Linked DNA regions of Homo sapiens: all the other regions are linked to region 1. Evidence: fine-mapped expression QTL. A gene starts in region 1. Each other region holds a variant in brackets. All regions are shown on one strand. Distances are from middle to middle.

Region 1 (4,242 bases):
ACTGCTTGAAGTTGAACATTCTGTAAAGGCTGCTGCTGGATGGTCTGAATCGTCTGCCCTGACTGGAGTTGAAACGACTGTGGTGGAATAGCCTGAATGATCTGTTGCTGAGGCTGTTGGATCTGGATCTGCTGTAAGATAGGTTGGCCTACAATTTGCACCTGCTGAAGAGAATTTGATTGATCCTGTGCATTCTGCATTCCATTAGGCTGAAGCTGACTGGAGCTCTGGGCTTCAGACTCAGTAGCAGCAGGTGTTTGAGATTCTTCAATGGTGCGTTCAGAACTACTGGCTGATGTGCTTGCATACTGGCCAGTATCTGCTGAGCTCACTAATGTGTCACTGCTTGTCAAAGACGTTGAAGCAGTGGTTGTGCAGGTAGTGGAGGAGGAGGGAGATTCTGGCATAGTACTGGCAGAAGTAGTGGTGTTGGTGGGTGTGGAAACTAATTGATTCCCATTGGAAGTCCCACTATCAGCAGTAGCAGCAGGCTGGCCAACCTGCCCAGTCCCTCCTCCGGCAGCCACGTTGTTTATCACTGGCAAAGCTAGAGTCACTCCTCCAATGTTAATTGGTAGGGTTGTTACAACTTGAGCCTGAGTACCAGGAAGAGTCTGTAACTGCAGTGGTATTGAAACACCAGGTCTAATTTGGACCGGAACTGTCTGATTTGCCAGGTTTTGAGCAAGAATATTCCCAGAAGCTGTCCTGTTAGCAGCTGTGAGTATAGCTTGATTATTACCTGCAGAAATGAGCTGAATTTGACCCTGCAAATCCTGTAGAGATGAACTACTAGTTGGATTGATTTGAATTTGTTGACCTTCCACTGTCTGAAGTTGTGGAATTACTTGGTACTGTACACTACCACTTGGATTTTGTACTTGTATGACTTGAAATTGACCAGGGGTGGAAGAATTACCTGATTTAGTTTTTGTAGGAGATGCACTCCCGTTATTACTGCTGGAAGAACTAGACGAACTAGAGGCTGGTTGAGAAACGTTATTCTCTTTTGAAGCAGGAGGAGTGGAGGCAACAAGTTGCCAAGCGTTTCCAGCAAGTTGCGTTGTTACCAGTTCTAGCTGTTGTGGTTGATTTTGAAGTTGCACCAATCCTTGACTTGGATCTATAATAATTTGTTGTTGTCCAGTTGCTTGATTTTCACCAGGAGTCCCTATTTTGCTGCAAGTAGCTGCCAGTAAAGCCAGAGGAGAGGGCTGAGAGTCCTACCCAAAATGGGACGGTAAAGGAGAGGGGGGGGGGAAAAAAAGTGGGCGGATTTAGTGGAGGCCAGTAGTTGCCAGGGGGTTACTTATTTTGACAGCTCTACATAACAATTTAGGAAGCAGCAGAAATCAAAAAGAAATACGAACAAAAGTAGATAAGAACTATATGAATAAGGAAGCAAGTCCTATAATATCAAGTTTAAATAAAAGGAAATTTCTTTACAACTTTGTAAAGTGTTATGTTCCTAAACTCAAAATGCCCTTGGGAACACACACACCGTTTTCTTATAGTCTGAATTCCTGATGTAATTTTAAACAGCGTTATACCCTCAAAGAGGTGAAAACTTGATGAATTTACAATTTAAGTTCCACACTCTCAGAAAGATGCTTTGAGTGGATAAACATTTTATTCTGTTACTTCTGGACATTCAAAGGGCATAACTCCCTCTCTCTCCTAATGTGTCGTGATGAATTTTTTTAATTTGTTTGCTTTTACCTGGGAGCCTGAGGTTTTGGGTTTTTTATTGTTATTCTCTGGCTCAGAGGTTTTCCCTCCTTCTGTAGCCATCGCCGCTGCCGCTGCCGCCTCCTCCTCCTCCTCCTTCTTCTGATCTGCAACAAACCCCCCCACCACACACACACGACAACAGGTTATTAGGATTATTATTATTCGTCTTCTTCCTCTCCTCTTCTCCCCCCTCCCCCCGAACATTAATCTCCATAAACCCGCGATCCACGCACACCGGCAGGGGGTGGGGGAGAAGGAGGGAAGGGAGGAGGGGGATATCACAAAACGTGGTTTGAAACCCGACCCATCGGCTCCAGAGCAACACCCAGAAGGAGGTTGTTCTCTCTCAGACATTAAGACAAAACACAACCCTCCTTCCCTCCCCGATTCCCTCCCGCCCTCTCCTCCTCCCCTTAAAGCATCTCAGCGGCCCCGGGGGAGGGGGGAGAACCGAGCAGGGTCTGGGGAGGGAGGGAGAGAGGGAGGCGGCGAAGGAGACTGAGGGGGGTGGAGAATACGTACCGCTCATCCCGCATTAACAGGACAAACCCTCAGACGGAGACACTGGGATAGAGGTGGGTGGGGGTGGGGGCGAGGCGGGAGGAGAGGCCGGTCCCGCCCGCCCGCGGTGGCTCGGAGGAGGCTGTAGCTGGCACAGGCTCTGCCTCTTTTTCCGCGAATGGCCGCCGCTGGGCTGTGGCGTAGCAGCTCCTCTCTCCGCCCGAGCCCGGCTGACTCGCCCTTGATTGACAGCGGCGGCGCGCGGCGCGGGCGGCGGCGCGGGTCGGGGGCGGGGCCAGGGCGGTGCGAGCCTGGCCGACTCCCCACCCCCCTCGGCCTCTCTCCGCCGGAGCCTCCGACTCTCCACCCCTTCCCCCAGCGGATTGGCCGCCGACCTGCCGGGGGCCGGGGCGCTGGGGCCGCCTCCTCTCCACCCCCTTTCTCGGGGTTATTCCTTTAGCAGCTCTTCTCCTCCTCCCTGGCTCCTCTGGCGCTCTTTCTCTCGGCGTTCTAGCTCAGGAGCGCTGCCGGTAGGCCCTCCATACAGCCAAACTTGTTGTCTCAGGATATCCCGCCCCCTACTCATTTCCCAGCGCCCTCCACTCAAAAACCCCCTCCAGCAATCCCTCCAATTGCCACTAAAGAAAAAAGTAGGGCCCTTGATCCAGGCAAGCGAGAGCGGCGGACGTGGGCGCGCGCGGACCACCAACAGGTCGGCGCGCTGGGTGAACTGCCCGCTGCCCCCGCGCAGGGAGCATGGCTTTCCTGAGGCGCATCCGGACCCGGGCGCCCTTTTTCCCTGGCTCTGTCTCCATTGGCTGAGCCCAGGGTGACGCGCGCTGAGTGGTGGGAGAAAGGGGGTGGGGCACTACCGCGAAGGCTGTCGGTACTCGTAGTTTCCGGCGGTCGCGGTGCCTTCTTCGAGGCACCGCCTCTCTCCCGCCCCCGACCGAGGCCTGGCTGCCGAGCGGAAAGCTGCCCGAGGGGGCGGTGGCGGCAGGGCGTGGCCGGGGCCGAGTGGGAGTTGAACTGAGCGAGGAGGAGGGGGAATGGGTGTTGTTTGCCTGGGCCTATCCGCCGCGCGGGGCTGCCCAAACCACCTCTGCCGCCGCCTCCTCGGCTCCAAGCCGCTCCCCGCGGGGCGAGCTCACACCCGGAGCGCTCGGCGATTGAGCGGGCGGCGGCGTGGGGAGGCGGGGTTTGCTGTCCTCGGGGTTTGAATGAACCCGGCTTCTTGAAGCAGCGCCCTCGCCTTGCCTTTCTTTGCTCACCTTCCCCTCAGGCCCCCTGCTTTGAGTCCGAGGCCTGTTTTCTCACGGAGAAGGATCTTCCATTTTTATTTGTTGTCTCTCTGGCTGGCAGCTGGTGCAGAGCAGTGACCCGCCTTCTAAGAAGGGTTGCATCGCGTTTTGCCTAAAAGCCTAAGTGGTTGGCGGAGTTCTAAGCCTTATCTGACAAGAGTCTCCGGGCGAAGAAAAGCCCAGCTCCATAAGGGTCAGCCCCGCTTACGGTGTAGCGTAAGCAAGCGTAAGGGCAAGTGGAATTAACATCTGGCTGCACAAAGCATCTTACTGTCAAATGCACTTGAGCAGTGTCCTGCCTCAGCTTTCCTACAAAGTCCTGAAGTCAGGATGATGCCATGGAACGTAATCAGCGCCTGATTAACTGTACCAAAGGTGGAAGTGACCCCACATGTAAATACTGGCCTTGGGAACAAGGCATGCTTACACCCCAGGCTCAAAGCCATTGTCTCACTTCTTACCTGGGCTTCACACTCAGCCTTGGGCATTTTTGTCTCCTGCCTGAGGCCTGACATGTTGCAATGGTGAGGAGGTCCCAGATGCTGAACTTGACTGGCATTTCCTTTGCTTGTTAAGGTAATTGCAAAATCAGCTGATGACAAAGCCATGCAGCAAGACAAAGCAATTCGAATAAAGAATTACATGGTATTGTCTACCCCATCTTATACAATGAGCCAGAGATCCCTGAACAACGTGCTTTTTCCCCATC
Region 2 (4,242 bases), 33 kb before region 1:
TCCCATTAACAGAAATAGGGGAACCCCGGAGAGGAAGCAGGTTTGGAAAAAAAATCAGTTCTACATTCAGATGTCTCCTACAGACACAACCCAGCTCAAACTCTGTCTTCAACTAGAACTGCTCTTCCTCCAAGAAGTCAGGCTTGGCACTATCTCTTCTCCAACCACGATATTTAACTTCCTGTCCCTTTCACTCCGTTTATTTTTGAACTCAATCTTCATCCTCACTTTGTTCCCTAGTTATGTGGACACACTCTCAATCCAACCCTCCTCTGGCTTCGCTTAGCATCCGTGGTAATCCCTTGTGTCTCGCTGAACTTCTGCCACACCTGATGGTAATTCTTATCATCCACTTTCTGGTGTTCTTAGGCTGCTAAACACCAAGGAAAGAGATTACAGGAGGGCTAATAAAGCCCTAAACTTTACATTACCTGAGCCATCACTGTTGCTTGGTAACCTTTCATTCATCCTATGCTGGCAATGTACATAGCCCTTCATTGGCTGTTCCAATTTTTTTCCCTCTGTCCTCAAATCCTCATTCCCCTTTCCTTGCACCTTACAATCTGTAGATGATTTTGCCTCCTAATTTACTGAGAAGTCACCCAAAAGTATCTTTATTCTCCCTTCTATTATCAGCATCTGACTGGTTCTCCAAACATTGACTCACCTTTTTAAAATCTCATTTTAGAAGCACTTTCACTTGGGTGACAGACCCTGTCTCAAAAAAAAAAAAAAAGAAAAGTTATTTATCAGTGCTGTCCAATATGATAGCCTCTTGCCACATGTGGTAATTAGCACTTTAAATGTAGTTAATGCAACTGAGGAAATAAGTTTTTAATTTTAATTAATTTTAGGTTTATAAGCCACATGTGACCAACGGCTTTCATATTGAACAGCACAGTTCTTAGGTCTTATCAAATGATTCAAACACAAAACCTGCTGAACTTTTCTCAATACTCTCAAGTCAACATTCAATACCATCTGAGATTCCTCTTAGCTGCTGACATACTACCCTGTTCTCTTTCTATTTCTCTGATGGTTCTCACTTTTCTTAACTTTCTGCTTTTGGCCCCCAAAGACCAGGTGTAACCCTAAGTTCAGTTCTCATAATTCTGCAATTCAAACTCAAAACTGTCTGCCTCAATTTCATACACTGCCATAATTTCTACACCATCTCCATGCAAAAGACTTTCATATCTAGACTGCTGATTCTGATCTCTTCTCAGGACCAATCTCCAGATACAAACTAGACACTTTCAACATACTATTAGCTCAGACTTATTAACAAATATCAAAATTCAGGTTCATCACTTTCATTTTCTGGAAGTCATTTCTTTCAATGGCACAAGCACTTTCATGGTCATCCAGATTCAAACTCTACAGAATTACCCTTAAAATATTTTTCCTCTCTCCATTCATACATCAAATTCTTTTTTATTTTTATTTTTTTAAGACTCTTGAGAACCACATACTTTACACTCAAGTTCAGACTTCCCATCACTGATATCTGAGTCAATACTATGGTCCCGAAACTGGCTTCCCCATTTCTCCTACGTCTGTTAAAAAACAAAACTAGCTTGGGCAACATGGCAAAACCCCATCTCTACAAAATACAAAAATTAGCTGGGCCTGGTGGCAGCACACCTGTAGTCCCAGCTACTTGGGAGGCTGAGGTGGGCGGATTGCTTCAGCCTGGGAGGTGGAGGTTGCAGCAAGCCAAGATCACACCACTGCACTGCCTGGGTAACAGAGTGAGATCCTGTCTTCAAAAAAAAAAAAAAAAAA[C/AC]TAAAACTAAAACACTGCTTTATAAATGAAACTTCCTGTCCCCTACCCCTCAAAAATATACACATTCACATACCCTTTTCACCTGTCCTTGGTCTGACATCGTCATTCTACAACCAAACTTCTACCAACCTTGTGAACTTCATTTTCTAACATTCTCCTCAAAGTCTCCACTAGAACTTTAAAGGTCTATCCATTCTTTCTTATACAAAGCATATTCCAACTTCCTATTGAGAGGTGACAGCGTGCTGGCAGCCCTGGCTCACTCTCGGTGCCTCCTCGGCCTCGGCGCCCATTCTGGCTGCGCTTGAGGAGCCCTTCAGCCCACCGCTGCATCGTGGGAGCCCTTCTCCGGGCTGGCCGAGGCTGCAGCTGGCTCCCTCGGCTTGCGGGGAGGTGTGGAGGGAGAGGCACGGGTGGCAACCGGGGCTGCGCGCGGTGTTTGCAGGCCAGCTAGAGTTCCGGGTGGGTGTGGGCTTGGCGGGCCCTGCACTTGGAGCGGCTGGCCTGCCGGCCGGCCCTGCTGGCCCCCGGCAGTGAGGGGCTTAACACCTGGGTCAGCAGCTGCGGAGGATGCGCCGGGTCCCCCAGCAGTACTGGCCCACTGGCGCTGCGCTCGATTTCTCGCCAGGCCTTAGCTGCCTCCCCGCGAGGCAGGGCTCAGGATCTGCAGTCCACCATGCCTGAGTCTACCCCCACCCAGCCGTGGGCTCCTGCACAGCCTGAGTCTCCCCCAACCCCCGTGGGCTCCTGCACGGCCTGAGTCTCCCCAACAAGCACCGCCCCCTGCTCCATGGCACCCGGTCCCATCGACTGCCCAAGGGCTGAGGAGTGCGGGCGCATGGCACGGGACTGGCAGGCAGCTCCACCTGCAGCCCTGGTGCGAAATCCACTGGGTGAAGCCAGCAGGGCTCCTGAGTCTGGTGGGGACTTAGACAACCTTTACGTCTAGCTAGGGGATTGTAAATACACCAATCAGCACTCTGTATCTAGCTCAAGGTTTGTAAACACACCAATCAGCACTCTGTGTCTAGCTCAAGGTTTGGAAATGCACCAATCAGCTGTGTCTAGCTAATCTTGGTGGGGACTTGGAGAATCTTTATGTCTAGCTAAGGGATTGTGAATGCACCAATCGGCACTCTGTGTCTAGCTGAAGGTTTGTAAATGCAGCAATCAGCACTCTGTGTCTAGCTCAAGGTTTGTAAATGCACCAATCAGCATTCTGTGTCTAGCTCAGGGTTTGTAAATACACCAATCTACACTCTGTATGTAGCTAATCTAGTGGTGACGTGGAGAACTTTTGTGTCTAGCTCAGGGATTGTAAACGCACCAATCAGCACCGTGTCAAAATGGACCAATCAGCGCTCTGTAAAACAGACCAATCGGCTCTCTGTAAAATGGGCCAATCAGCAGGATGTGGGTGGGGCCAGATAAGAAAATAAAAGCAGGCTGCCCGAGCCAGCAGTGGCAACCCGCTCGGGTCCCCTTCCATACTGTGGAAGCTTTGTTCTTTTGCTCTTCGCAATAAATCTTGCTGCTGCTCACTCTTTGGGTCCACACTGCCTTTATGAGCTGTAACACTCACCGCGAAGGTCTGCAGCTTCACTCCTGAAGCCAGCGAGACCACGAACCCACCGGGAGGAAAAAACGACTCCAGACTCACTGCCTTAAGAGCTGTAACACTCATCGCGAAGGTCTGCAGCTTCAATCCTGAGCCAGTAAGACCATAAACCCACCAAAAGGAAGAAACTTCGAACACATCCCCACATCAGAAGGAACAAACTCTGGACATGCCGCCTTTAAGAACTGTTAACACTCACCGCAAGGGTCCGTGGCTTCATTCTTGGAAGTCATTGAGACCAAGAACCCACCAATTCCGGACACACTATCTTTTGTACAATGCCTTCCTTCTTTATTCCTGTTAGGGCTCTCCTTTTCTCAAAGAATTAGTTCAAGCCTACCAGGTTTCATGGAGTCTTTTATTTCTGCCCTGGCTCTCAGAAGATTCATCCTGCTCTTAATTTTAGTATTACCATCTTTTACCATTCATCTCTCTTTTAGCATATGCCACTTGTATTACTTCTATGCATTACCTTTTATTTTAATGAATATTCTGTCTCCTCAACTGGAACATAACCTTTTGGAAGGCAAAGGCTTCTACCTTTATGCTCTCAGAACTTAGCCTTGTGCTTAGACTTAGTAGGAATTTAAGGAATAAGTCCCAAAGAAATGGATATGCAGTTGAGAAGTGGTAAGAGGACAAAGTTAGTAAACAGGACCACTAACAATTAAATGGATAAAACAGGAAATAACGGTAAAAAGCAATCTTCCATGAGAGCAGAAAATATGAGCAAAGGCAATCACAGAATCAGGTATTAGTGTACTAACCATCTAAAAACAGTATAATCTTATTACAGTGATCATCAAACGATTCTTGGGACTTTTCTGTTTTACAGGCAG
Region 3 (4,242 bases), 59 kb before region 1:
TTTCCACTTAAGCTTATAATTATTGATACAATTATAAATACATTTAACTTTATATAAAATTGTATCTTGGCTAAAACACTAAGTCGTCATATATTATAAAGAACCTATACTGCAGTTGCACAAGACTTTTTAGGGGCTCTTTTGAAAAGGATTTTTTCTTAGCTGGTGAAAAAGAATTTGAGATCTGGTTAAAGATCCCTATAACACTAGTTGCTAAAAATCATCCCTAGATTGCCTTACTTCTAAGTGGATTATGAATGGCAAATAAAACAGTCCAGTAAGTAGGCAAAGTATCTACAATAAAATATTCACAAAGTACACTATATTAACACATGTAACATAAAAGTGTGCATATCTATATGACATCGTTATTATAGACATTATCCATTTAGTTGTATCATTATAGTATTTCCAAGTTATCAGTATTTTTTTTTTAAGAGACGGGGTCTTGTTATATTGCCCAGGCTGGAGTGCAGTGGCTATTCACGGGATCATAGGCACTATAGCCTCGAACTCCTAGCACAAGCAGTTCTCCCGCCTCAGCCTCCTGAGTAGCTGGGACTATAGGTGTGCACTACTGCACCTGGCTAAATGTAACCCTTTAAAGTTTAAGAGAGCAGCATGATTACATGTGTTTGTTTATTCTCCCCACTGAGACACCCATTAAAATAATAGTAAAGGCATAAAAGGGTTAAATCTACAATAACAAAAAAAAAAAAAAAGGAAAGGAAGTCCATCAGCAAAACAATGATTATATCAAATGTCTGCAAACTAGAAAATAAATTGTCAAGGAAGAGAATATGTTCTAGAAGACAGTCAATGTCTTCTGCTGGGAGGGAGACATGGAACATAAAACAAAATTAAAGTCCATACATAGACTATAACTACTATCAAAAAATTGGGGCAAAATGTTAATATTAAAGATTTGTATCTTAAAAAAACATGGTTGCACAGCATATTATTGTATTTTGGTAATTAGGCATCTTCCAGTGTAACACAGTGTTCCACCCAGTTACCTAAAATAAAAGCCACTAGCTTGGCAGAGGCAGTGGCTCACACCTATAATCCCAACACTCCAGGAGGCTGAGGAGGATGGATTGCTTGAGCTCAGGAGTTCAACACCAGCCTGGGCAACACTGAGAAAAATCTGTCTCTGCAAAAAATAGAAAAATTAGCCAGGTGTGGTGGCATGCACCTGTGGTCCCAGCTACTCGGGAGGCTGAGGTGTGAGGATCACTTGAGCCTGGGAGGTGGAGGAGGTTGCAGTGAGCTGTGATCGTGCCAGTGAACTCCAGCCTGGTGACAGACAGAGACCCTGTCTCAAAAAAACCAAAACAAAACGCCACTAGCTCATAAAGTTTTCAAAATCTTTCACTTAAGATTTCATCAAATCACCACCATGACCACCACCACCACCACCACCACCACCACCACCACCATCATCATCATCATCATCATCAACTTGAACAAAAACAAAGAATCACTGGACAATTCAGGAACGCCTACAACACTGGAAAAAGATACAGACAAAAAAATCATCCTGGAGGAAACATAAAATTCTAGATTAAAAAACTGAGATAATTTCAGCAAGCACCTGCATCCATACAATGAGAACAAAATGCAGTAAAACAAAACAAAACCCACCAACAATGATGGAATACACTATTGGAAATTAAAATGCAATTCAATAGAAATATCTGAAAGTAAACTTAAAAAATTTCATGGAAAATAAAATGGTAATGAGACAAAAGATATAAGAGAAAAACTGTAAGACCAAAAAAAAAAAAAAAACCCTAGAGATTCCAAAATATGTCTACTAAGAGCCCAGAGAGACAGAGAGAGAGAGACAGAGAAAGAGAGAGAGAGGGAGAGAGGTGACCCAGAGTACAAGTCATTAGCACAACAAATAAAAATCTATTCTCAGATACAGCATTATGAAATTAGCAGCACACCACAGATTAAAAGGCGCCCTTAGCGTTAAAAACAAAACAGGGGCACTTCAAGAAGACACAGGAACTAATGTGAAAGACCTTCCAATGGCCAAAGGTGAAACAATTTGAGCAAGAAAATGATAGTATTGAATTATAACCCAAAGAACAAAAGAACTACTCATGAGACCATACCAATGTAAATAAATGATTGCATAAATAATTGGAGAAGAAAGTATAAGTGGTACAAAGAACAAGGAAAATTGAAAATGACCTTTCAAACATCACAGTAATAA[C/A]TGCTGCAGGCAAGATCCACTGAGGAATGCTAAAAGTGAAGCTTTAGTATTTTATTTGTAAAAAAGCCCCCCAAACTCCTCTAAAATAGTAATTATTGTGGTGGTTTTAACATATGTCCACAAATTCTTCGATACTTCTCCCTTCAGGAGGTGAAGCTTAGTTCTCTTCCCCCTGAATGTCGACTGAACTTAGTGACTTGCTTCTAACAAACAATATGGAAAGAGAGAAACTGTAACTTTACAGTGAAGAAATGTGGCACACCCTACATTAACCAATACATCAGGGTTAACATCACCAATAATGAGATAATCACATTACATACTTCCTCTTATATGATAAGAGAAAGACACTAATGTGCTATTCTTCTCATGACAATTCACAATCTTACTCTAATCATTAGAAAACATTAGACAAACCCAATGTGACAGACATTCTAAAAATACCAAAACCACTTTCAAATGTGTCCAGGTGATAAAAGACAAGGAAAGGACTAGGAAAAGTCACAGATTGCAGGAGACTAAGGAAACATGACAAACAAATGCAGTGTGTTATTCCAGACTGAATCCTGGAAAAGAAAAGGTATATTGGTGGAAAGTGTAATTAATAGTATTGCAACAATGTTAATTTCTTAATTCTCATAAGGTACTGTGGTTATACAAGAAGTTTACAATAAGGGAAGCTTGGTGAATGATATGCGAACTCTATGCTAGCTTTGCAACTCTTCTCTAAGTATAAAATTATTTCAAAATAAAAATAAAGCTGCAGGGAAGAAATCAGGTCACCTACAGAAAAAAAAAACAAGAAAAAATAACAAACCTCTTGTTGATAAAACAGATGAAAGAAAATAGAGCTGTGACAATGTTTTAAGAGAATGTAATTTTCAATCTAGAATACTGTATTAGCCAAACAACCAAATTAAGCAGAAAGAGAAAATAAAGAATCCTTTAGACAAATTTATTTCCCCAAGCTTTTCGTTAGGAAGCATTTCAGCACGTTTTCCAGCAACGAAGAGAGTAGACCAAGAAAAATGAAAACACGAGATCTTGAGAACCAATATGAGATCTAAAACGAACAGAGAAGGGAAGAAATCTCAAGATAATACCCCTGGAACAGGTCTACAGAAGAAACTGTTCATGTTCATTAGAAAGATGGAAGGCTCCAGAAAAAAGGAAAATGTGACTGGAATTCACATTGTTCTTAAAAACTTGAAATAACTAAAGATTATTTCAGGTAAAGTCAAACAATACAAGAAAAAAGAAAAGGCATTGTCTAACTTTATTGGAAATAGAGTGGTGAGTTAAGAGAGAATGCCTGGCCTGCATACAGTTTTTCAAAAGAATCTTAATGTCTTCAGATGGTGCAAAGTGAAGTAAATCCTTAATTCTAAATGCAAGAACTCAATAGATAGTATAAAATATTGATAGATCAATAAATAACAGTGTTTAAGTATATGATTTAGATACATGACAGTCATCCTAGAAAGAACAAAAATGCAAAAATAGTTAAAATAGTTAGCTATGATATTCTCTGGAAAGCAGGATGGGGTGGGGCAAAGAGCCTCCTTATTACAGTAAACTTTTCTGTGATTTCATTTTTAAATACCATATGCATATATTGTTTTGAAAACCTTTACAAATTTTTTTAAAAAGCAAACAGATCACTATTTTCAGCAGTGAATACAAATAACTCCATTCATTCATAGCCAAGTCAATAAGTTTCTATTTGTAGTAGTGGTTAGACATCAAATAAAGCATAGTTGTTGCTACGAATGGTTAAGGCTTTCAACTTAACATATTAAATGCTTAATCAATACTTATTTCAAAATATATTTTTTCATATTCTTTTAGACAAATTTAACAAACAGGAGTTACTCTGTTAAATCTTTAAAAGTAACAATTTTAAGTATACTGATATTAATATTTTTTAGTGTCAACCTGTTTTAATTAAACAATTTTATGTGTGATATATTTAAGATGTTTGAACCACTGAAAGTAAGCTTAAAGTATATTGGATTATG

Alleles and levels. Positions count from the first base shown, and alleles are read on the strand shown. Sizes are in standard deviations (SD) of each study's normalised expression. Not every link is listed here.
With allele AC in place of C in region 2, the expression in regulatory T cells of the gene that starts at base 2,429 in region 1 is lower (large effect, 0.77 SD a copy in Schmiedel 2018).

The links. PIP is the estimated chance that this variant, and not a neighbour inherited with it, causes the effect. A credible set is the group of variants that fine-mapping cannot tell apart.
Region 2: its variant is the best candidate, but not a certain one, in a credible set for the expression of SP4 in regulatory T cells (Schmiedel 2018, PIP 0.54).
Region 3: its variant is the best candidate, but not a certain one, in a credible set for the expression of SP4 in lung (TOPMed, PIP 0.58).

What each region holds. Positions count from the first base shown.
Region 1 is chr7:21,426,270-21,430,511 of GRCh38, reverse strand. It overlaps SP4 (Sp4 transcription factor), which reads right to left and starts at 2,429. Exons shown (of 6, transcript NM_003112.5): 1 at 2,254-2,429; 2 at 1,720-1,835; 3 at 1-1,223. The coding sequence starts at 2,260. RefSeq lists silencers at 2,136-2,725, 3,106-3,495.
Region 2 is chr7:21,459,571-21,463,812 of GRCh38, reverse strand. All of the region lies in intron 3 of SP4 (Sp4 transcription factor), which reads right to left. Among named protein-coding and RNA genes, the nearest start is that of MIR1183, 9.4 kb to the left of the region's middle. The variant C/AC (reference allele first, on the strand shown) is at 1,786.
Region 3 is chr7:21,484,960-21,489,201 of GRCh38, reverse strand. The region is part of intron 5 of SP4 (Sp4 transcription factor); the gene reads right to left. Among named protein-coding and RNA genes, the nearest start is that of MIR1183, 16 kb to the right of the region's middle. The variant C/A (reference allele first, on the strand shown) is at 2,225.